Linked DNA regions of Homo sapiens: regions 2, 3, 4, 5, 6 and 7 are each reported to be linked to region 1. The links are microRNA targets in miRTarBase. Many come from high-throughput screens and were not tested one by one. Region 1 holds a microRNA gene; each other region holds the end of a gene's coding sequence.
What was found. Region 1 holds the annotated microRNA hsa-miR-1343-5p (UGGGGAGCGGCCCCCGGGUGGG, at 2,215-2,236, opposite strand). A microRNA usually pairs through its seed, bases 2 to 8, with sites in the 3' UTR of a target mRNA and lowers its output. Matches are read on the target gene's strand: a 7mer-m8 pairs with bases 2 to 8, a 7mer-A1 pairs with bases 2 to 7 and ends in A, and an 8mer does both.

Region 1 (3,347 bases):
ACACACATATTTGTATTATATATTTATATATTACATATAAAATATATATACATATGTAGGCACTGAGGATACAGCAGTGGACAGTAATAACAGCAAAGATTTAAGATTCCTGACCTCAAGAAGCTTGCTTAATATCCATTGACAAGTAAACTGGAAAATACAGCAGGATAAGGTGAGGTCAGGATGCTTTGGGAATGTTCAGGAGGGGCATCTAATTCAGTTTTTGTAAGGTGAGAAAAGGCTTCCTAGAATACAATGACCACCTATTCTGAGCCTGAAGAGGTGAGGAGGAGACAATCTGTAAACAGGCAGTGATCCAGGTAGAAGGTAATACACTTATAGCCCTGGAGGCAGAGAGAACAGGAAACTTCAGAGAAACTGGCAAATAGTATGCGAGAGAAGTGACGAGAGATTAGGCTGGTAAGATATGCAGGAAGAGACCAAAAATGACCTTTGTATGTCATAGAGAAAGCTACAGTGTCAGATTATATCATCTTACATACTTCTTTAAATGTTTTAGTGGTTAAAACAGATTGCACTTCAAAAGGGAAAAAAAGCACACCCTCAAAGATTTCTGCTATAATCACGGGAAAAACTATAGAACTAGTAAACCCAGCAATTAAATACCTCTTAGATGCCTAGAAAACAGACTCTAGCCACAGAAAAACAAAATGATGCTATATCATCATTTGTGTTCATCAGTATTCAAATTCCAACCACACTTTAAGAACTACAGATTCGACTTCAGCTATATAACTTTCTCTGAGTAACTTGACCTACATAATTTTGTTCATATTCCAGATTCCTATAGTAGGTCTAATTTATTTAAAAATCACAAATTGCATATAAAATGTTATATTACTGCTAATTACTTTTTTAAATTGTGATTTCCTCTATTTACTAGACTATGAGCTTCTTCACAATACGGACAGGACACTTAAATGTTTTATATTCCCATCCCCATTCCTCAGGTTTCATGGCCAATGCACCATACCCAATGAATTTTAGATTAAAATGCTTTAGAAAAAAACATGATAACTTCACGAATCCTTATTTCCTCATAAGGTATACATCAAATTATCTTTTACATTTCTTTTGCTTCTAACATTTGATTTGTAGCATGCTTCTGATATTTAAAAAGATAGCCTTTTTTTCTTTTTTAAAAAACTATATCTATTCACATAACACAGACATATATGTTAGCTAGATGAGAATGCCAAGGGAGAGGGTAGAAGAGAAAAGCAGGAGGAGAGAGAAGGAAAAAAGGAGAGGACAAAAGAGAGGGAGGTAGGGAAAAGAAACACAGAACACTTTACCAATAAATCACAGGGAAGTTTTAAAAACATAGTAATATTACGTATGGAAGCATTACCCCTAACTCATCACAAAACCAAAGTTCTATCTTTCAATAATCAAACATCATGTAAATGCCAAAAGAAAACTCTGAGAGCAAATAATGAGCCATGAATATTTCAAATCTACTGAGTTTCAGCTGTGATCAAAAATTTAGTGCTATAACTTAGAAAGACTCCTTGGCAGAGTAGTTACAAGGAACCTCTCCTAATTCAAATATGAGTTTGATTCCAAGCTCTGACAGTTACTAGTGATCTTGACCAAGTTACTTAATCTCTCTGACTCTCAGGAAAATTTTAAATGTATAGATATATATTTTTTAAGTCATGGGGCTGGAAGTGTTAATGCTTCACATACATCTTTATGTAACACTTTACAACATCTCTAGGTAAAAATAAAATGTTAGCTATACAACCATTTTGAATCAAGACACATTTATTCCATATTCTGTCATGTCTACCTGAATCAAGATACGGTTTTTTTCCATATTCTGTCATTTCTACCAGAATCAGGACACATTTATTCCATATTCTGTCATTTCTACCAGATCATCCAACAAACATTAATGTATAAGGCACTGTACTAAGCACTGGGTATGAAAACAACAAAAAGAGAAGGTTCTGTCCACAAAGAGTTTAAAGTGGAGAAGAGTGGAAAAGACTCAGCAGCTAGGATAGAGGGTCCTGGACAGCGTGAGATGACAGATGGCTTCTCAGCTGTCAGGTTCATAGCTGACTGATTGAAGAAAGAGATGGCAGCCCTGGAGTGTTCCTGCACCATCTTCTCGTGGTCCATGGCAGTGGCGGAAGAGGAGCGGGCCCAGAGCGAGAGTGCGGGCCCCAGGAGGGGCCAGAGCAGAGGCCCACCCGGGGGCCGCTCCCCAGCACCGACGCCAGCATCATCGTCCTGTTCCTTTGTCCGATGGGCAGCTGCCAGAGCTGAGGACTGAAGTATACGGAGGCTTCCCTTTCTCTTTTTAAATTCTAGATATTAAGCATAGCCTTGGTCAAACACAGTTAATGGTGATGTTTATTTTATTAATAGAATAAGTCCTGAGGCTTTCACAAAATAATTTTGTTCTGCCAAAAATTAAGAATAAAAGTCTTTACGTAAAAGATGTGTGTGGTGGTGGTGGTGGAAGAGAGCTAGTTTTTATCTGTAAGACCAAGTTATCAGATTAACATGAACATTAAAGAAAAATTCCTCTTCTTAGTGCTATGTTGAACCATAATGATAACAATAATCAGAAACAAAAATAATTCAATTGTTGACTCTACAAGTATTTACTAGCTGCCCATGTGAATGACACTGTGTGCGACACTATGATAAAAATAGTAATAAAATAAGACAGAACTGCTTCAAGAAGTTCCTAATCTGATTGAAGAACAGTACAACAAGCAGGCAATGACAATCCCATCCAATTAGTACCTACAGCAGAATGGGAATGTAGAGGAGGGACCCCTAGTCAGTGTTTGTCATCCCTTTTCACTTCACACACACACAAAGAAGGATAATATTTGCATGGCCAAAGACCTGAGGCAACCTGGTTGCTAGGCCAGTTGAGGTCCTGCCCTATGGGGTGAAGGCATGAGTAGGAGAGTTTGAGAAGGGCCCAGTTAGACAAGGTCAACCACCCACACATCCCTCTGGCTTCTTAAAGTCTAGTAGCTACTGTATTCGACAGTTTAACACAGAACATTTCCATCACCACAGAAACTTCTATTGAATAAAACTATAATCTATAATTCCATTCACTAATTTAAAAATTCTGATATAATACAAAGATTTAGCAATAAATGTAAAAACGCATAATGATGGAATATAATTTAGTAACAAAAGGAATGAACAGCTGATAAATGCTACAACATGGATGAACCTTAATCATGCTAAATCTGAAAAAATCTAGTCACAAAAGACCAAACATTACATGCTTCTATTTATATGAAACATAGACAAAAGGCAAAACTTTAGAGACAAAAAACAGATCCGGATTG
Region 2 (3,347 bases), not on the chromosome of region 1:
ACAAAAACATAAACAAAAACATGAGCCTTGTAATGTGGTGCAGTTAAGTACATATCTACATAGGGCTCTTGTCAAAAATGTTTAAGATTCATTCCTCATGAATCTACTCATGAGGAAATGGCAAATACAAATTATGGAATCTTATCTAAGACAACTGGAGTAAATTATTCAACGAAATCAATGTCATGAAAGACAAAGGAATGCAGGAGGTCTGTTGTAAAAGAAGATACTTAAGAGAAACATAACACATGAACTTCTATTTGATCCTGGATCAAAAATGAAATTAAAAAGCTGTTAAGATTTTGGATATTGAGAAGTGAATACAGGCTGAGTATCCCTTATCCAAAATGTTTGGGACCAGACATGTTCCAGATTTCAGACTTTTTCAGATTTTGGCATCTTTGCATTATACTTATAGGTTAAGCATCCCAAATCCAAGAAATCCGAAATCTAAGCTCTTCCAATAAGCATTTCCTTTGAGCACCATGTTGGTACTCAAAAAGTTTCAAGTTTTGGAGCATTACAGATTTCAGGTTTTCATACTTGGGATGCTCAACTTGTATAAACTATATAAGATTAAGAAATTGTTAAATTTTGGCCAGGTCCAGTGGTTCACACCTGTAATCCCAGCACTTTGGGAGGCCGAGGCAGGTGGATCATCTGAGGTCAGGAGTTTGACCAGGCTGGCCAACATGGCGAAACCCCGTCTCTACTAAAAATACAAAAAAATTAGCCAGGCATGGTGGCAGGCACCTGTAATCCCAGCTACTCAGGAGGCTGAGGCAGGAAAATCACTTGAACCTAGGAGGCAGAGGTTACAGTGAGCTGAGATCACACCATTGCACTCCAGCCTGGGCTACAAGAACAAAACTCCGTCTCAAAAAAAAAAAAGAAAAGAAAGAAATTGTTAATTTTTTGTTGTTGTTTTTGAGACAGAGTCTTGCACTGTCGCCCAGGCTGGAGTGCAGTGGCGCAATCTCAGCTCACTGCAAGCTCCGCCTCCTGGGTTCACACTATTCTCCTGCCTCAGCCTCCCGAGTAGCTGGGACTACAGGCGCCCGCTACCACACCAGGCTGATTTTTGGTACTTTCAGTAGAGACGGGGTTTCACCGTGTTAGCCGGGATGGTCTCGATCTCCTGACTTCGTGATCTGCCCGCCTCGTCCTCCCAAAGTGCTGGGATTACAGGCGTGAGCCACCGCGCCTGGCCAGAAATTGTTAATTTTCTTAGTGTGATAAAGATATTGTGGTTACAGAGAACATCCTTATTAGGAGATGCATACATGGTTTAAGAGTTAAGAGTTGCAATGTCTGTGACTAGCTTTCAAATGGTTTAACAAAATCAATCTATATTGAGAAAGATAATTGTGACAAAATGTTAATTCCTGGTGAATTTTGGTAAAGGTTCTATGCATGGTCACCAAACATTTCTTTCAGCTTTTCTATGGGTTTGAAATTTTTACAAGTTAAAAGTAAAATAAATAATAGAGATCCTTTGACCATAATTTAAACTGAATTAGCATTGTCAGGATTAGAGCTCAAGAACCTTTATTTTTCACAAGGTCATCCAGATGATTCTAACACACATCTAGAGAATCGCTGGTCTTTGGTTTCTGCTACCTCCTGTAGTCAGAGAAAAGTGAGAGGAAGAAATGTTGTAATTCTCTCAGTAGAATTAGCTCAGCTGGTGGCCAAGAGTCTTTCCCTGATGGTTCCACAAGCCAATTATCTCAGACACGGTCCGAATGGCCTCGGAGTCTTAAGACTGGATTTCCTATGGAGGAATCAAAGTACTAATCCTCCTTTGGGGGCCTTGGCTGCTGTAAGAAACCAATACTTGACCCTCCCAGGAATAGAAGCTTCAGGGCACTGAAAGAGCTAAAAGGACTGGAGTGGAGGCAAGCCAAGGTGCTGTCTGAATGGTAAGAGGAAACCTACCAGGTGAAGGATCTAGTGTTTTGCCAAGAAATTCAATTTAATACCAAACAGGGGATTTACCTGGGCAGAACAGGCAATTTGTTAATATTTAGTGACTGTTACACACCTGAGTTGGATGTCATTACTAACAACCCCTGCCATAGGCTTATGCACTGCACCCCCTGCCCCCAAAAGCAGACAATTGGTTTAATGTCTATTCTAAGAAACCTGAGGAAAATGAAGCCAGACTGATTATGGGACAATTTAAATAAATACAAGAAACTGAAGAGCAGAAAAAGGTCTCCATACAGCTACTGTGAATTACTTTTATTGAAAAAAAATGTTCACTAAAAAGGCTGAATACATCCCTCTACATGAATACACAGCTCAGAAGAGGGGAAATGGAGGTGGGGAGGCATCCAAGTCATAAAGGGTAGAAAATGAATGCAAGCTTCTTAGAACTCTTCCCAGGAACACAGGCAATGCTTGCAGTTTCCTGGGTACCCAATGGGCAGGGAAGATCAGGAAGAGATCCATGGGACATAAGGAAGTTAGGTTACTGCGCATAGCTCCCAGGAGATTGTCCCCTCCATTTCTCCCACTCATTCTTTTGGCTGTGGGAGTGTTCCCTCTAAGCTGATCCACTACCAGCAGCTGGAACACTCCCCTAAAAAGCTAGCTTGGCTTCCTGGGCAGCCAGTTCTTCAGGAGCAAGGCTGTTAAGTTCTTGAAGCTGTCACTGCTGCAGGCCCCCCCTTAGCGCACAGAGGACAATCCTCACCAACACGCCACCAACCACTCCAATGGCAATTCCTATTCCCAAGGCTGACGCCACCTTCTTTTTCCACTTTGGGTGGTGAGGCTTGGAGTAGCTGTCCAGATTAACTTCCAATCCCTCATCTATTAACTTCTGATCCTCAGTAAGTGACTGATGGAAATTCAGATTCACCAAGTTAGGAGGAAGGACCCTCAACCCAAAATAGAGCCTCTTGACGAGTCTCAAGTTTTTTACCAGCTGCACATCACAGCGATATGTCCCAGAGTCATACTCCTGAGCATATTTAAACTTCACAAAGTGGGAGTTGGCTTGAAAGGGTTTGAAGACCTCATCGTCAGTGGAGATGACACCTCGAGCAAGTCTCCAGGTGAACCGGAAAGCTTCCTGTCCAAACTCCAAGATGTCTGAACTCAGACAGCTAAGCTCAAATTCCTTGCCAATGAGAATGGTGAAATGGAGCATCCCACAGATCCAGTTGGTCAGACATTCTAAGCGCCGAGTCTGACATTTCCTTCTCACTCCATCAGGGCCCACCTCACAGACGGTCTCCTCCTTATAGCCAAGGCCACAGGTGACAGTACAGGTTGTGGCATTGATGATAACTTTCCCCACAGCTTCTTGCAGCTTCTCAGGGATGGCCAGTGTTTTAGGT
Region 3 (3,347 bases), not on the chromosome of region 1:
TACCTCTTTAAAAAGAGCTCCAGTATTGGTGTGACTAAGCCTTGTCACTTTGAATTCTGCATTCCCTTACTGATGGATATGTAGGTTGCCCCAGGTTTTTGTGGTTTCAGACAGTGCTGCAATGAACATTCATACCTGTTTTCTTGAGCATGTGTGACAGGTTTTCTAGGGCAGCGTTTCTCCAACTGTGGTCCCTGGATCAGTAGTGTTGCATCACCTGGGAGCTTGCTAGTTTCTCAGGCCCCACCCCAGACCTCCCCAAATTAGAAACTTCACAGGGTTGGAGCCTGCTGATCCATGTTCCAGCAAGCCCCCCGGATGGCTCTGATGACCACTCAGGTTTGAGAACTGCTGCTTTAGGGTTGGCTCAGCTTAACCCTCAGCCTGCCTGTTTTTGTTTTTGGTTGGGAGAATGCTCCCCACGTGCAAAGTTTTGTTTGGTTTTTCTTCCCTTTTTAATTAACTCACATCCCAACCCTCACCCATGTTTGTCCTGCCTGCTTGGTCTCCCGACCTCTGAAGTACCGCTTGGTTTTCCTTTTTCCCTTCCAGGCGTTTCAGTTGGGCCCCACGGAAGCCTCTTACTACTGGGTGTACTGGGTTCCAACTCAATATGTGGATGCAATCAAAGACACTGTGCTGGGGAAATGGCAGTATTTTTGAAAGCACTTTCACCTCTGGCCCAGGAGACTGACCCAAAGTGAAGGACATTGCCGGGAGAGGCCTGCAGCATCCCTGGATTTCAGAGTTCTGGAACTTTGTTCATAAAAAATCTATATTCAATCTGAGGTGATGTGGTGACTGAAGCCAGAGGTGATGTACTTTCACCATTAGCTTAATTTTAACTTAAAATTACCAGTTCCCTTTCTTGCAGTCAGCTTCATACCATTTTTAAAGTCAATACGATGGAAATCAATAAATCTGAATTCCGAACATGTTGTGTGGAATACTCTTAAGTGTGTTTGAGAGTAGATCTGCCAATTATGTTGACAAGGGAATGATCAAAAGCTTTGTTTTTTTTAAAAAAAAAAAAAGCAGTTTCAATTGAAATATTTTCATACATCTTTGGTTGCAAACATTTGGACTGCATTGCAATGAGTTGGGGTGTTTTTTTTTTCCTTTTTTGTATAAAATTGTATGCAAAATGGGGGTGGGTTAGTAAGCCACATATTTCTGTCCATTGATTCAGATTTAATTCTTTCCCTTTTTCATTCTCTCGCTTCCTCAATTTGAGTTTTTGTTTTAAGAACCCAAAGATGTCAGTTCTTCTTTTGGTACCTCATCAACGCTTCCTTTCCTGGGCTCCCTCCCGCCGTGCTGCTGCTGCCTGTGAACGCACGGTGGGAGAGGAAGAGCTGCTCAGTCTTGGGCAAGGAGCTCTCACACTTGCTGTGGTGTTCGTTGAGCAGCAGAGTATCTCCCAGTGACTCCTGTTTAAATGTCTTGCCCTTTGGGCCCCCATCTCCAAGGAGTTCCATTGCTGGTTGGATGATTGTCTGCACCCCTCACTGAGCTTGGCCTAGAGGCCCAGCCTGGCATGGTTGTGCCTGGGCTGTGCCGCTCAACAGCCCCAGCTCCCAAGCAGACAAAGACCTCTTCCAGGAGGAGCCAGGTAGAAGATAGTTATACAGCCATATAGCTGCAGATCCAGATAACCTTCTTTCTTTGGAAGTTTTCAAGAAATTCTTAAGCAGTCCAAGGATGATTTCAATTATGCTTCTCCATTGGGTCCTTCTGCTCATGCATTCAGTTCAAGTGTCCTTTATCCCAGGTTCAGAGATGCTGCCTTTCTGAAGAAGACATCTGACCCTAGCAGGTTGGCCAGTGTTATTGAACAACAAAAATGGGATAAATTGCTTTCATGATTAGCTCACCTTCTTCTGGTTTTAGCCCTTCTGTTCTCTGTACACGTGAACTTCTGTCATCTCCTTCTGGCTTGGTTGCCTCTGAAAGGAGGGAAAGTCTCTTGGTAAATTATCTCTTTTGTGCTGTTTGCTGTTTCTCTGCTGCCGTCTTTGCAGTTCTCCTCTCACTGGTTGCAGGCTTTCATAGTAAGGTTTGGCGAGAAATGTTCCAAACATCACATTTTGGATTCTAGGCTGTCACCCCTCATTCTGTGAAACGTATTAGCATGTGTTCGCCCAAGATGACTATTCCTTGTGAGCCAGTTAATGATGATATTCTACGCCCTTCCCTTCTAAGCTGTAGTTCAGGAATCCAGCCCACATAGACAGACTCTTGCTTTCCATGGTGTAGTCAATGCCAAGTGATGCATCTAGGCAGGAAAATCTACTCTTTGCTTTTTTGGGGGCAATTAGTACATTTGTGAAGTGCAGCATCCAAGAAACAGCCTGTTTTTTCATCCCTTGAGAAAGGAGCAGTCATTGCAGCTTTTCTGTCCTTGTCGGCCTGCAGTTCCTGGGGAAAAGAGTACATCTGAGCTACTTGTCCAAGCCTCTGTCTGCAGGTGACAGGTTTTGGGGGAAATGAGATGCATTAAGTAGAACATCATCTCGGGTCAGACATTGCCCCTTTTGTTTGCCAATGCCCCAGTCCTAGAGACTTGTCCTGACAGTGCCGCACACCTACTTTTGATCTCTCAGAGCAGGTGGCTCCATCCCCAGACTAGCCTGGCTGCTCTCCGAGGCCCCTCCACCTGCTCCCCTTATTGCCCCATTCTTGTGGCTTGCCGGGCCACTTGGCCTCCCTTCTTGCCGGTGACAGCGTTCCATCATCTCCCCGCTCCCCAAGGGCCAACTGCTTCTCACTCAGGCTGGTGTCATTTCAGGAGGACCAAAGCCTGCGTGAGCCTTTTTATTTTCAGTAAAATGGTGCTTTTTTCCTTACTTCGAGATACTATATATAAATAATAATGTAAATGACACCTTTTCGTACGGAGCTGTTTGAGTATTGCTTTACAGAGCTCACTAAATCAGCTTCAACAATCTTGAGCTCTGTGGCTCCTCACCCTGTCTGCATGGAAGACCTTGCTGGACGCTCTCGGGAGAGCAGACATAGCACCAGAAGCCACTGGGAGAAGTGTTTTCGATCCGTGTCTGGGCCACAGTAGTATTCACTGTTTAGTCTTTGAGTTCCGTAAGCAGTCTCTTCATACATTTCTTACAGTCTGGAGTGTACTGACTAAATCTGTGTAAGCAAATTGAAATACTCTTTCTTTTAGGTAGCGTCACAGTGGTTTTTTTTTTCCTCAGGATAATTTCTATACAATTTCCTTACTGTCAGAGGGACCAGATCTTTCCCTCACTGTGGCAGGGGCCGTGCAGGTGGATAAAGGAAGAGCTGGTTTCCGGAGAGTGACTGTAACAGCGTTGACTCGAAGCTAGAGA
Region 4 (3,000 bases), not on the chromosome of region 1:
CAGGTTTATTTCAGTTTTATATTTTATTCCAGGCAAGTGCTTATTACATGGATAGTATTCATGTCTCGGTAACTAAAGTCTTGGAGCATGAACAGCCACTAGAATACAGTTCAATAGTAAAAATACAGTATGTACAAAATTAGGGTTTTTGTAGTTTTTTTTTTTTTCCACACAGCAGATGTATCCAAACACATAAAAATCTCTACAGTCTGGGGTCGCTACAGTTTATATTTCAGGAAACAGAGACACAGTGGCCGAGTCCTCACTGTAAACAAGGGCCACCTCTGGGGGTTGGGGGTGGGACCCTGGGATGGGGGGAGAAGCAGCTGTTTCTGGAGAGAGAAGGGGTCATGGTGGCCCCCCAGTTACCCTCCAGGCATTCCCTGCCTTCTTTGGCCCCCCAAGGAACCAACCTCCCCCTCTCCCCGAGGTAAGGACTCCCAGCCAGTGAGCCACTCTGAACATCAAAAGGTAAAACACGCATGAGAGGTAAGATGTGTGCGTGTGCGTGCGTGTGTGTGTGTGTGTGTGTGTGTGTGTGTCCCAGGCTGGAAGGGCTAGGGAGGGAGGGCCAGGCGGTCCCACAGGGTGAGGACAGATGTGGTCCCGACAGCACTCTGGGGGAGACGCCCAAGGAAGGGCTGGGTGGTGACTGCCCACTTGGGCACACAGCATCACAGCGTTCACAAACGACAAGAAAAACAGCAACACCCATCGTCACCAATCTGGACATAGTCATTCGGCACTAGATTTGCAGGCCCCCGATGCTGGGGGACAGGGACGGGGAGGGGCAGCGGGTGGATGATGAGGTATCTGTGCAGGCCCGGGGGCCACTGGCCTCAGGATGCAGGGAGAGGTGGGCAGGCTGAGGGGAGGGGCGAGCTCCACGAGGCTGCTCTAACTGCCCCGTGGGTCAGGCCTGCCATCGCTGTCACAATGGGAATAGCAAAGCTGGCTCTCCCAGAGCCACGGGGTCTGGCGGAGGTGGCTGTGCTGGGGTGGGTACAGGGCTCAGCCTCTGAGGATGGTGACCTGGTTTGTAACTGTCCCTTTACCCACACCAGGAGAGAGAAATAAGGAACAGTCCCCTGGGAGGTGTCCAGGACCAGGAGGGAACAGGAAGGGAATTTTTAGGCATCTAAGGATTCTTTATTTCCAGAGAAAATCTATTCAAGACCTTTGCTGACCTCCTCTGTGCCTGCAGGGCACTCCAGGAAATCCTCAGCTCTGTCCCCTCCCCCCGGCCCCCTCGCCGGCCCAGGCCCCTGCCCCAGCCCATCAGTGTGAGCTTCACATCCAGGGACACCGGCTTCCTCCCGCTACACTGAAAGGCCACTGGTGAGTGTGTGTCCAGGTGGGGAGCCGAGCGTGTCTGACACAAAGCCACTTGTAATAAACACCCACATACAAGGAAAGGCCAAAGCAGGCTGCCCAGAGGCAGAGAAAGCCGCATCCTAACACAGAGCCCCTGACTCCTCCCCCTTCCACGCTCAGCCCTGTCCTTGACCCAACCAAGGACCTCTTCTCAGAGAAAGGTGCTGCTGCTCTGCAGCTCCCCGGGCAGGGCCCACTCAAAAGCGTCCCCGGGAGAAGCAGGGTGTTGAGGGGATGGGAGGACAGAGGCAAAGGGGCTGGAGCAGAAGCAGCAGCCCTAGCTCTGGCCCTCTGTTCTGTATAGGTCCCAGGGTTGGTCTGGGGACAGGCTTAGGGCTTGGCTAAGCCGCTGGGTTTTTACCTTCCTGATGTCTCAACGATGTGGCTTCTATGCTCCTGGAAACAAGACCAGATGCTGGTCCATGTCTCCCAAACTGCAGGAGGCACCCAAACCCACAGGCCGCCAGGCCCACCTGTCCCTTGGAGCAGTGCCCAGCACTCAGCAGAGGTCAGAGATCAGGGGCTGAACGCAGGACAGCGCCCCTCTTTGCTGCCTTCTGGAAGCCAAGAGCCAAGCCCAGGGCTGGGGACTGGGGACTGGGGACAGGGGCCCAGTGGCTCTCCTCCCATCCAGACCCAGGCTGCAGGGGACGGGGAAGGGGAAGGACAGCCAAGTCCCTCCTTCCCCACCTCAGCCTGCCCTCCTGAGGTCCAGAGCCCAGTGGCAGGGATTGGGGTGAGGGCACAGGAAGCTTGGCAGTGGCTGGGTTTGGTTTATTGTTGGTAGAGAATCATTTTAAGTAGTATCTACGGTAACGAATCACAGTGACTGCAACCGGGTCAGAGAGCCCCAGGCTGAGGCCCCACCTGTCCGGGTGGGACTCCAGACCAGCCACTTCCTATGATCTGTCACCTGTGCTCAGAGCAAGGCCCCTTATCACCCCAATCCGCAGCTTTCTGGGCCAAGTGGCTTCAGTTCTGCTTTCCCCATTTCCCCTCCAAAGGCCTGGGAAGAGAACATGAGGCTCCGGAGGAAAGCCGGGGGCCTGGGCCACCTCACCAGACAGCAATAGCAGCAGCAGCACACGAAGGCGGGGCAGGGCGGGGGAGAAGTCAGGGAGCGTGACGTCCACATCGCACTGATTTCCGAGGGTAGGGAGGGGAAGCAGGAGCGGCACTGGAGCTGGCACTGGGCCGGACAGGTGGCACATTCCATCAGAGTCTCGCATTTTCTCAGAGTCATCTTACCAAGTCCTAGTGCAGCAGGGTGGCCCTTCCCTCCCTTGGCTCAGAGTCTTTGCACCCCCTTCCCCTAGGAGGCCTGGGGGTGGGTGGGGGGGCTGGCCTGGGCCTGGCTGGAATGTGTGGAGCTGGTGGGTGAGAGAGTGGGGGACAGGTCCCCCTCCCTGTCCCCACTGGGGGCCTCTGAGTGGCCTCGTCCTCAAGCCAGCTTGAGTGTGCTGACTGGGAAGGAGGGCATGGTGACCATGGTCACAGGGTTGAGCACGGTCTGGCCCACCAGCTGGGGGTGGTGCACCACCTGAGCCCCCACGGCCGGCTTTGCCATGACAGTAGCCGGGGGCCCCAGGCCGGCCGTGCCGTTGACTTGCTGGTGCGAGAGGGTGT
Region 5 (3,000 bases), not on the chromosome of region 1:
AGAATGCTGCAGCCTGCCTCCCTCAGGGCTCTCCATTGCTCTCTCTAAGCCCTCCAACCAGTTCAAAGTTAGAAACAAATGCATCCTACACATCGGAGGTTGGTGGGCTGGGCTGAGCACTGAAAGGGGGCAGAGCATTGTGCTTGGTTGGCCGAGTTCTGGGAACCTGGGCAGCAGAGGTGGGAAAAGTTGGTGAAGAACGATCTTTGTCTTTCAAATGTGCCAGGATTTTAAAAGCAATCTAGTAACACTCATTGGCATGTGCCTGTGTTCTTGTCTGTCTCCAGACTCTGTAGCTACATCCAGAGTCCAGGACTTGTCAGACATGGTGGAGATACTGATCTGAAGGAGGTGGTGCTTCAGGACTCTGAGCCATTCTCTCCCCTCCTCTGCCCTGTGCCACTCTCAGCCATTTCAGCAGCCCCGTCAACCGCTGCTCCGTCCCTTTCCCCAGCCAGACACTCATTCCCATTGACCATCTGGTCCCAGGAGCTCAGGAGGAGGACCCCAGGGGAGAGGAGAGCTGTGAGAGCACCGGCACCCCCAGAAGACTCTGCTTCTTAGCCCACATTCCTCCGGGCCTTATGGAGAATGAGGATTCAGCCTTGACTTCTTGCCCAAGGCCTGCTACTGGGGTAGCAACTGACAGCTCAGAAAGGAGCTGAGCTCCCTCTGCCCTGCCAGTTGTCAGTCAGGCAGGGAGGGAGTGGCTGTGTTGGTTTGGGGAACTAATTTCCACGGACGGCTGCCCGTGGACACCAGGTGGACTGGTTCACTAATCAAGTCAGCCATATTGTTCTCTGGCTAAGTTTGGTTCCAGCCAACGTCATCTGCTCTTCAGTTCCTCACTGCCTTCTTGGGATACTAAGACTTGAATTTTTTGGGGACTATTAAGGGTGTTAGTCTTGGAGAAGACACAGCCTCACCTTCTCACTTGCTGTGGGTGAGGGGCCATTTAAGTGGACTGGGAGACAGTGCGCAGTTTGTATATAATTCCCTTTCTTGTGGAACAGAAGACTGAGGCCTGCAGGTTCCGATGTGTCTCCATGGGCTGTGCTCCCCTCTTCCTACTGTCAGTTTCTGAAACTTCTGACTGGCCTCCCAGTTATGCCTCCTCCTCAAGTTCCTGGCCCGTGGATGTTAAAGCTGCTCGATTCCCAGGATCTCGGCTGCCTTTTCCTCTATCTTGAGCCCTATAAATGCCCACGGGACCCCCACCACCAGCCTCTTGAAGTGGCTCCACAGCTCCTGTCCCTGGAACATCCTGTCAGTTTGGTCATAAACCCTGAGCCAGATGAAATGAGCCACCGTGAACAGACATCTGCCATGCCCCCAGGTGGGCTTCGGTGGCCCTACCCGGTACCAGTTCTTTCTGAGAAACTGGAGATGTCTTGTTAGCATAAGTGTCTTCATTCCCACCTGGAGGGTTTGGGAGAGGAGCAAAGCAGTTGAAAACTAGTTAATGAGCTACAAGAGTCAAATAGTCCTCTGAATGGAGCCCCCATCACAAAACAGTGCCCAGGAGGCTGGCTCCTCAAGCTACCCATGCCCAGCGCCCTAAAGCAGCACCAGATGCTTTGGAATTGGGGTGAAACACCCACATGGCAGCCTGCTAGCAGCAGTGACTTTGACTTCTGGTCTTAAAGAGTCCCTCACTTCAGCCCCAGGAGCTATTGGTGGGTTTTAGCAGTTTTGTCTTTACCGTTTTTAGTTCTCCTTGATTCTTTGTTTTCTTCCTTTATCGTTTTTAGGTTTGGTATGTGTTGTTTTATTTCCATGGTTCCTCAAGTTTCCTTTTTAAACATTTGCATTTGCTGGACAATTGCAATTTTTTTTAAAAAATTCCCCTACCCCTGTTTAAAGCTGAAAAATACATTTGGTTCATGTGCATTGTTTACAAAGCAAAAAGAAAAAAGAGGAAAAAAAGGCAAAAAATATTGTGAAAGAAAAAAAACAACTTAATATATTTTGGATTAATATTTGGTATTTCTTTTAAAGTATTTTTTGTGCTGTGAACATTTTCTGCCAAAGACCATGATGTGTGTCTGTATGTTTAAGTTATCGTAAATATTTAAAATGTAAACATGGCTGTTTTGTTATGCCACCCTGTACCAGGATTGCTGCCGCATTCCACTGGGTATAACAGTATTTTAATTAAAAAAAAATAATTAAAAGTGATGTCTTTGCACAGGTGAGACTTTGCACTGAGGGAAGGGAAAGGGTGAGGATTTTGGGGGGCCACCCAAGTCATAGTCCAATCTCTTCAAGGACCCAAGATAGAATTTAGGAATTTTGTGAAGCTGCATTAAGGATAGAGTTGGAATGAGGATGTGGCTGGCATTTTTCCCCTTTCATAGATAACATTTCTTGAAGGCTGGGAGGGGAAGGAGGGCCTGGCAGATGGCAGCCTCCCGAGGTAGGGCTGTGTTCTAATCAGCTTTGTTCGGCCACACGCTGTGGTTATCCACAGTGGGAGTGGGTGTCCAAAGATGGCTTTATCCTTCCCCCACTCCTTTTCCCACTCCCACCTAGCACATAAAGTTTTGTCCGAAACCATCCAGAAGGCCAGGCACCATGCAGAGGACATTCAAGAATGTGCATGTTCTTAGCCACCGCCTCCCTCCTTTGCTGTGACATCACCACTCTTTCCTGATGCTCAGGAAAGCATATTGCTCCAATTCAAAATTAAAGAAAGCCATTCTCAGTCTTGCTTGTTCTTGTATCAGAAACAAAATACCTGTCTTGTGCTTCTATAAGTGTGTTAGGACCCTGAGGTTCCCAGTCAGCATGTGGCCAGCAGTTAGCTGGCCATGAGGCAGCAGCAGGCTACCAGACAGCCTACGTGACATGTGACAGGAACAGTTTCCCACCATGGCCGTGAGTGAAGTGTCTTCGGGGCCAATGTGGGAACTCGGGAGCCATGTTGATGAGTAACTAAGTTGAGATCCTAGAGAAGGTGTCTTCCCGAGCTGGCCTACCAGCCCACAAGTATGAAGACAA
Region 6 (3,000 bases), not on the chromosome of region 1:
TTTTTTTTTTGAGACAAGATCCCACTCAGTCACTCAAGCTGAGTGCTGTGGTGTGATCACAGCTCATTGCAGCCTCCACTTCCTGGGCTCAAGCGATTCTCCTGCCTCAGCTTCCTGAGTAGCTGGGACTACAGGTGCGCACTACCACGCCTGTCTAATTTTTGATTATTTGTAGAGATAGGGTCTCACTATTTTGCCCAGGCTGGTCTCAAACTCCCAGACTCAAGTCATTCTCCTACCTCGGGCTCCCAAAGTACTGGGATTACAGGCATGAGCACCTGGCCCCTGAACAAATTCTTTAAGTCATATTAGCACCTGCTGCACGCCGGCACTGTGGAAGGAGGATGCTTGCTTGCTTCCTGGTAACCAGCTCTCTTATCTCAAACCTCAATCCTCAGTGAGGATCACAGGATCTGAGAAAGGCACCTTGGCCTGGAAACAGCCCCAGATGAGTGAGATTGCTGGTCCTCTCCCGGGATCCCAGGCCCAGGAAAACCTAGCCATGCTTGCAGTCAGGAGAGGGCAGGGGATAGAGCCCTGGCTCCCATTCAACCTCCTTAGCCAGGAGGACATGTCCCATTTTGCTTAGGAGTTGGGAGGTACCCTAGAATCACTTAGCTTCAGATGCCAAATTCCATCCACATTCTTTCCTCCAACTCTCTGGCAGTGGGGAACTGCCTCTCCAGGCAGGGAACTGCTCTGACAGGTCTGATGACTGCCTCCAGGAGGAAGCCCTGGGCACCAATGAAGGTGAGGGGCTGGAGGGCCCAGGACGGGGAGTCAAGGTCCCCACTCCCAGGACTAAGGGACAGTTTGGCTCCTTTTTCCTGCAGTGGGAGGGGTGAGAAGGGCTGGGGTGTTCTGCAAGGGCCTGCTCCATTTTCCAGGGTGAAGGAGAGGCCGAGGGAGGTGGAGCGGGAGGAGGTGGGGCTTACTGTGAAACTGGGTCAAGATGGCCTCGGATTTGAGCAGGCAGGGTCACCAGGCTCTGAGGCAGCAGCTGTGAGCAGTGCCGAGGGAGGACCAGCTCTGACGGTGAGGTCGGGTGGGGGACTAGAATCCAGCAGAGGAGCGAGGGCAGGGCTCCTACCAGGAAACCCATAGCATTGACACTAACTGAGAGGCAGCAAAGGCGGTGACACTCCCCCAGGCTCTGTGGGCCCAGCCCTACCCCTGAAGCACAGTTAACTGGTTCTGGGGTAGGAACTGGGGGCCGGAGGGACAGGGTTCTGGTTCTGGCTCAACCTTGGCTGCTGGTGAGATCCAGGGCCTGGGAAAGAGGGGCTGAGGCCTGAACTGGGCCTAAGGAGAGTGCAGCTCAGTTCGCACACAACAGCACCCAGCCCTGTCCCCTTGCTGCCTCTACCCAGCCCTGGGCAGTTCCCTCAACAGAGCTCTGCAGCCCCAAGTGGCAGCTGCTGGCTCAAAGCTGGGACTACATGAAAGTCTGAAAAGAGAATGAGAAGGAGGTGGCGCAAGAGCCTGGACGCACGTGTGGGAGGCCGTTTTGTGCAGCGCCATTGTGCTCCCCGGGCGGGCATGTGCTCGCGCTCCGTGGCTCTGTTGGTGCCCAGCGTGCGGGGGTGTGCTGGTGGCCCTGTGGGCCTGTAGGGCAACCCATGCCAACTGCGGAAAAGTAACCAGCACCATACACCCCCCCCAACACAAAACTGGTCATTTATTTTTTTTGTTGTCATTGTTATTAGGAAGCAAAAAAATGTACAGTTACAAGAATCATTTTCCAAACAGAGGTTAAATATGAGCTGAAAAGTGTAAAAAAGGAAGAGGAACATCACTTTACAAATCATTAAATTAAACAAATAAACAAACAGAACCCAAAGAACCAACCCCCCATGCTGAGTTCTCTCCTTGTGCAACTCTGCAAAATGAGAACAGAAAATGAAGTGGGCCGTGGAGGTGGGGGCCCTGGGGAGGGGCGGGAGCTGGGAGCCAGGAACAGGCAGGAGGGGGCTGCTGGGGCATGGACGCTGGCTTTCTGCCCCGTGTGCCTGGTGGTTTCTGGTACCTGGTCGTCGTACCTGGTGGCTCTACCCAGGCTGGGGGTCGAGGGGAGGGGCCCCCAGAGGCCCCTGCCAGCCTGTGGCATTCAAGCACTGCCAGGACAAGCCAGATTGGGCGGTGGAAACACACGGGACAGGGAGGCGGCCACCAGTGCCCAGGCTGGTACCTGCCGCAGGTGCCAGCCTGCACCTCTTCTGATCTGAACTTGCCCCAAGTCCACCTGCGTCTCCCTCCTTCTCTCCAGACTGCCCCCTCCCAGATCCTGAAAGGCCCCTGCAGCATCAAATGGTTGATTTTAGTCTTTGCTTAAATTAAAAAATTAAAATATATATACATATATATACTGTACACACAGGACAATAACAGAGAGTGTTGAAAAGGGAGGTACAAGAGCGGGCCGGGGAAAAGCCAGGGGCGGGGGCTGTGGCCCAGGGCTGCTGGGAGGGAGGCAGGGCTGGGTGATGGGACAAAGGCAGCGGGGAAGGGTGAGAAGTTAGGGGACCAGAATGGGGGGCAATTTATTTTACAATAAAAACAGGAGTTCAAACCTCAGCAGAACAGGACTCTGGGGTCCCCAGAGGGCCCTCCTCACACTGGGTGAGGAGGGGTGGGCTTAGGGGGACGACAGGGGTGGGCGGGGAGCTCGGCTTCAGGTTTAGATGATGACGGTCCCTGGTCTGAGGGAGAAGGGCTGGAGTCTCAGCTTCTCCGTGACTTCGAGTGTTGAATAAGCCACTGTAGGGTGATGTCTGATAGGAGAAAAGAGAACAGCTTATAAGGCCTGCAAGTACTGGCCGTGCTGGGGCAGCAGAGAGGCCCAAGAAACCAAACCTAAGGGTATCAGAAGTCCAGAGATGCCAGGAGGGGTGGCGCACACCTGGAGTCTCAGCTACATGGGAAGCTCAGGTGAGAGGATTGCTTGAACCCAGGAGTGGAGTTGGAGGCTGCAGTGAGCTATGGTCACGCCACTGAACTCCA
Region 7 (3,347 bases), not on the chromosome of region 1:
CAACAAGGACTTGGAGTCTGCAGAGGTAAGCTCTCTGCTTTCTGGGTGAGACCGAAAGGTCAAACTTCCACACAGAAGGGGAGTCGGGCGAGTGTCTGGAAGGGCTGAGCTGCTCTGAAGCTTTGGCCTCACTTGCCTCTCTCCCCAGGAACGGCGTGAGCGAGAACAGCAGGACTTGGAGTTTGCCAAGGAGATGGCAGAAGATGATGATGACAGCTTCCCTTGAGCTGGGGGGCTGGGGAGGGGTAGGGGGAATGGGGACAGGCTCTTTCCCCCTTGGGGGTCCCCTGCCCAGGGCACTGTCCCCATTTTCCCACACACAGCTCATATGCTGCATTCGTGCAGGGGGTGGGGGTGCTGGGAGCCAGCCACCCTGACCTCCCCCAGGGCTCCTCCCCAGCCGGTGACTTACTGTACAGCAGGCAGGAGGGTGGGCAGGCAACCTCCCCGGGCAGGGTCCTGGCCAGCAGTGTGGGAGCAGGAGGGGAAGGATAGTTCTGTGTACTCCTTTAGGGAGTGGGGGACTAGAACTGGGATGTCTTGGCTTGTATGTTTTTTGAAGCTTCGATTATGATTTTTAAACAATAAAAAGTTCTCCACAGTGCTTTGTGCATCAGTTACTATACTTCACTGCAGTATTGGCAGGCTCAGATTTTGGGTTTTTTGGCCTTAGAGTACTAGCCCCAGGTGTGTAATCTGAGGGCGATGGGTCTGCAGATGGGGAGGTGCCCAGGGGAGGATGAAGGGACCCTGACCTGGGGTCGGGGGCCTAGGTTTACTCTCTTTTCGTACTTGTGTGGCTTTGGTAAGGTCTTGTTAGGAAAGGTGTACCATGTGTCCATCACCAGCTGCAGACCTTCATCTCCCAATACACCTCATGGTGCTTCACGGTTATTGCAGTTTTTACAAATTGAAGGTTTGGCCAGGCATGGTGGCTCATGCCTGTAATCCCAACACTTTGGGAGGCTAAGGTGGGCGGATCACTAAAGGTCAGGAGTTTGAGACCAGCCTGGCCAACATGGCAAAACCCCGTCTCTACTAAAAATAAAAAAATCAGCTGGGCATGGAGGCAGGCGCCTGTAATCCCAGCTACTTGGGAGGCTGAAGCAGGAGAATTGCTTGAACCCGGGAGGTGGAGCATGCAGTGAGCCAAGATCTCGCCACTGCACTCCAGCCTGGGCAACAGAGTGAGACTGTGTCTCAAAAGAAAAAGAAAAGGACAAATTGAAGGTTTCTGGCAACACTGCATCAAGCAAATCTGTCGGTGCCATTTTCCCAACAGCATGTGCTCACTTAGCGTCTCTGGGTCACATTTTGGTAAATCCTCTCGATATCTCAAACTTTTTCATTATATCTGTTATGGTGATGTGTGATCGGTGATCTTTGATGTTACTATTGTCATTGTTGGGGCACCACAAATTGCACCCATATAGGATGGTGAACTTAGCCGGGCACGGTGGCTCGCGCTTGTAATCCCAGCACTTTGGCAGGCCGAGGCAGGTGGATCACCTGAGGTCAGGAGTTCAGGACCAGCTTGGACAACATGGGGAAACCCCGTCTCTACTAAAAATACAAAAAACAGCCGGGTGTGGTGGCAGGCGCCTGTAATCCCAGCTACTTGGGAGACTGAGGCAGGAGAATTGCTTGAACCCAGGAGGCGGAGGTTCCAGTGAGCCAAGATCGTGCCATTGCACTCCAGCCTGGGTGACACAGTGAGACATTGTCAAAAAAAAAAAAAAGATGGTGAACTTAATAAATGTCGAGTGTGTTCTCACTGCTCACACTGCTCACTCCATTCCCTGTCTCTCTCCCTCTTCTTGAGTCTCTCCATGCCCTGAGACACAAAATAATATTGAAATTAGGCCTGTTAGTAACCCTACAATGGCCTCTTAAGTGTTCCAGTGAGAGAAAGAGTCATTGGCCAGGCCTGGTGACTCACGCCTGTTATCCCAGCACTTTGGGAGGCCAAGGCTGGTGGACCCCTTGAGCTCAGGAGTTGGAGATCAGCCTGGGCAACACAATGAAACCTTATCGCTACAAAAAATATAAAAATTAGCTGGGCATGTGGCACGCACCTGTAGTCCCAGCTACTAGGAAGCCTGAGGTGGAAGGAGCCCTTGAGCCTGGGAGGTGAAGGCAGAGGCTGCAGTGACCTGAGATCCTGCCACTGCACTCCCACCTGGGCGACAGTGAGACCCTGTCTCAAAACAAGAAAACAGAAAAAGGGAGAAAGAATCACACATCTCTCACTTTCAATCAAAAGGTCAAAATGATTATGCTTAGTGAGGAAGGCATGTTGAAAGCTGAGAGAGGCCAAAAGTCAGGTCTCCTGCACCAAACAGGTAGCCAAGTTGTGAAGGGGGAGTTCTTTAAGGAAATTAAAAGTGCTGCTCCAGGTTGGGCACGGTGGCTCACAACTGTAATCCCAGCACTTTGGGAGGCTGAGGCGGGCAGATCACAAGGTCAGGAGTTCGAGACCAGCCTGGCCAGCATGGTGAAACCCCGTCTCTACTACAAATACAAAAACTAGCCAGGCATGGCAGTGGGCGCCTGTAATCCCAGCTACTCGGGAGGCTGAGATAGGAGAATCCTTGAAACCGGAAGGCAGAGGTTGCAGTGAGCCGAGATCACACCACTGCACTTCAGCCTGGGTAACAAAAGCGAAACTCTGTCTCAAAAAAAATGTTTTAAAAAGAGTTCGAGACCAGCCTGGCCAACATGGCAAGACCCCATCTCTACTAAAAATACAAAAAATTAGCTGGGCGTGGTGGTGCATGCCTGTACTCCGAACTACTTAGGACGCTGAGGCAGGAGAATCGCTTGAAGTGGGGAGGCGGAGGTTACCATGAGTCAAGATCGCACCACTGCACTCCAACCTGGGTGACAGAGCGAAATTCTGTCTCAAAACAATAAAAAATAAAAATGATAAATTAAATTAAAAGTGCTGCTCTAGTGGACACACAAATGATATGAAAGCAGAATAGCATTATTGCTGATACGGAGAAAGTTTGAGTCTGGAAAGAAGATCAAATCAGCCACAACATTCCTTTAAGCCAAAGCCTAGTCCGGAGAAAGGCCCTCACTCTCTTCAATCCTTTGAAGGCAGAGAGAGGTGAGAAAGTTGCAGAAGAAAAGTCAGAAGCTAACAGAGGTTGTTTTGTGAGGTTGAAAGAAAGAAGCCGTCTCTGTAACATAAAAGTGCAAAGTGAAGCAGCAAGTGCTGATGGAGAAGCTGCAGTAAGTTATCCATCAGATCTAGCTGATCTCACTGACGAAGGTGGCTACACTCAAAAACAGACTTTCAATGTAGACAAACAGCCTTCTATTGGAAGAAGATGCCACCTGGG

Region 2: the mRNA of TMEM81 is a reported target of hsa-miR-1343-5p. Seed matches in the 3' UTR shown: 7mer-A1 at 2,326-2,332.
Region 3: the mRNA of UBFD1 is a reported target of hsa-miR-1343-5p. Seed matches in the 3' UTR shown: 7mer-m8 at 2,659-2,665 and 8mer at 2,742-2,749.
Region 4: miRTarBase lists MNT as a target of hsa-miR-1343-5p. Seed matches in the 3' UTR shown: 8mer at 1,356-1,363.
Region 5: the mRNA of AMOTL2 is a reported target of hsa-miR-1343-5p. Seed matches in the 3' UTR shown: 7mer-m8 at 1,056-1,062.
Region 6: the mRNA of ARL8A is a reported target of hsa-miR-1343-5p. Seed matches in the 3' UTR shown: 7mer-m8 at 2,659-2,665 and 7mer-A1 at 1,928-1,934.
Region 7: the mRNA of PSMD3 is a reported target of hsa-miR-1343-5p. Seed matches in the 3' UTR shown: 7mer-A1 at 393-399.

What each region holds. Positions count from the first base shown.
Region 1 is chr11:34,940,740-34,944,086 of GRCh38, reverse strand. MIR1343 (microRNA 1343) reads right to left here and starts at 2,250; the gene lies at 2,167-2,250. The region is part of intron 2 of PDHX (pyruvate dehydrogenase complex component X); the gene reads right to left.
Region 2 is chr1:205,080,900-205,084,246 of GRCh38, forward strand. TMEM81 (transmembrane protein 81) reads right to left here. Exons shown (of 1, transcript NM_203376.2): 1 at 2,230-3,347. The coding sequence ends at 2,654. Among named protein-coding and RNA genes, the nearest start is that of TMEM81, 1.9 kb to the right of the region's middle.
Region 3 is chr16:23,569,928-23,573,274 of GRCh38, forward strand. It overlaps UBFD1 (ubiquitin family domain containing 1), which reads left to right. Exons shown (of 7, transcript NM_019116.3): 7 at 553-3,347. The coding sequence ends at 663. Among named protein-coding and RNA genes, the nearest start is that of UBFD1, 14 kb to the left of the region's middle.
Region 4 is chr17:2,384,086-2,387,085 of GRCh38, forward strand. It overlaps MNT (MAX network transcriptional repressor), which reads right to left. Exons shown (of 6, transcript NM_020310.3): 6 at 1-3,000. The coding sequence ends at 2,816. Among named protein-coding and RNA genes, the nearest start is that of MNT, 15 kb to the right of the region's middle. RefSeq lists an enhancer at 1,898-2,722.
Region 5 is chr3:134,355,051-134,358,050 of GRCh38, reverse strand. AMOTL2 (angiomotin like 2) reads left to right here. Exons shown (of 10, transcript NM_016201.4): 10 at 288-2,704. The coding sequence ends at 346. Among named protein-coding and RNA genes, the nearest start is that of MIR6827, 11 kb to the left of the region's middle.
Region 6 is chr1:202,131,746-202,134,745 of GRCh38, forward strand. It overlaps ARL8A (ARF like GTPase 8A), which reads right to left. Exons shown (of 7, transcript NM_138795.4): 7 at 1,659-2,771. The coding sequence ends at 2,722. It overlaps GPR37L1 (G protein-coupled receptor 37 like 1), which reads left to right. Exons shown (of 2, transcript NM_004767.5): 2 at 1-1,847. Among named protein-coding and RNA genes, the nearest start is that of GPR37L1, 10 kb to the left of the region's middle.
Region 7 is chr17:39,997,356-40,000,702 of GRCh38, forward strand. It overlaps PSMD3 (proteasome 26S subunit, non-ATPase 3), which reads left to right. Exons shown (of 12, transcript NM_002809.4): 11 at 1-25; 12 at 149-604. The coding sequence ends at 226. Among named protein-coding and RNA genes, the nearest start is that of PSMD3-AS1, 16 kb to the right of the region's middle.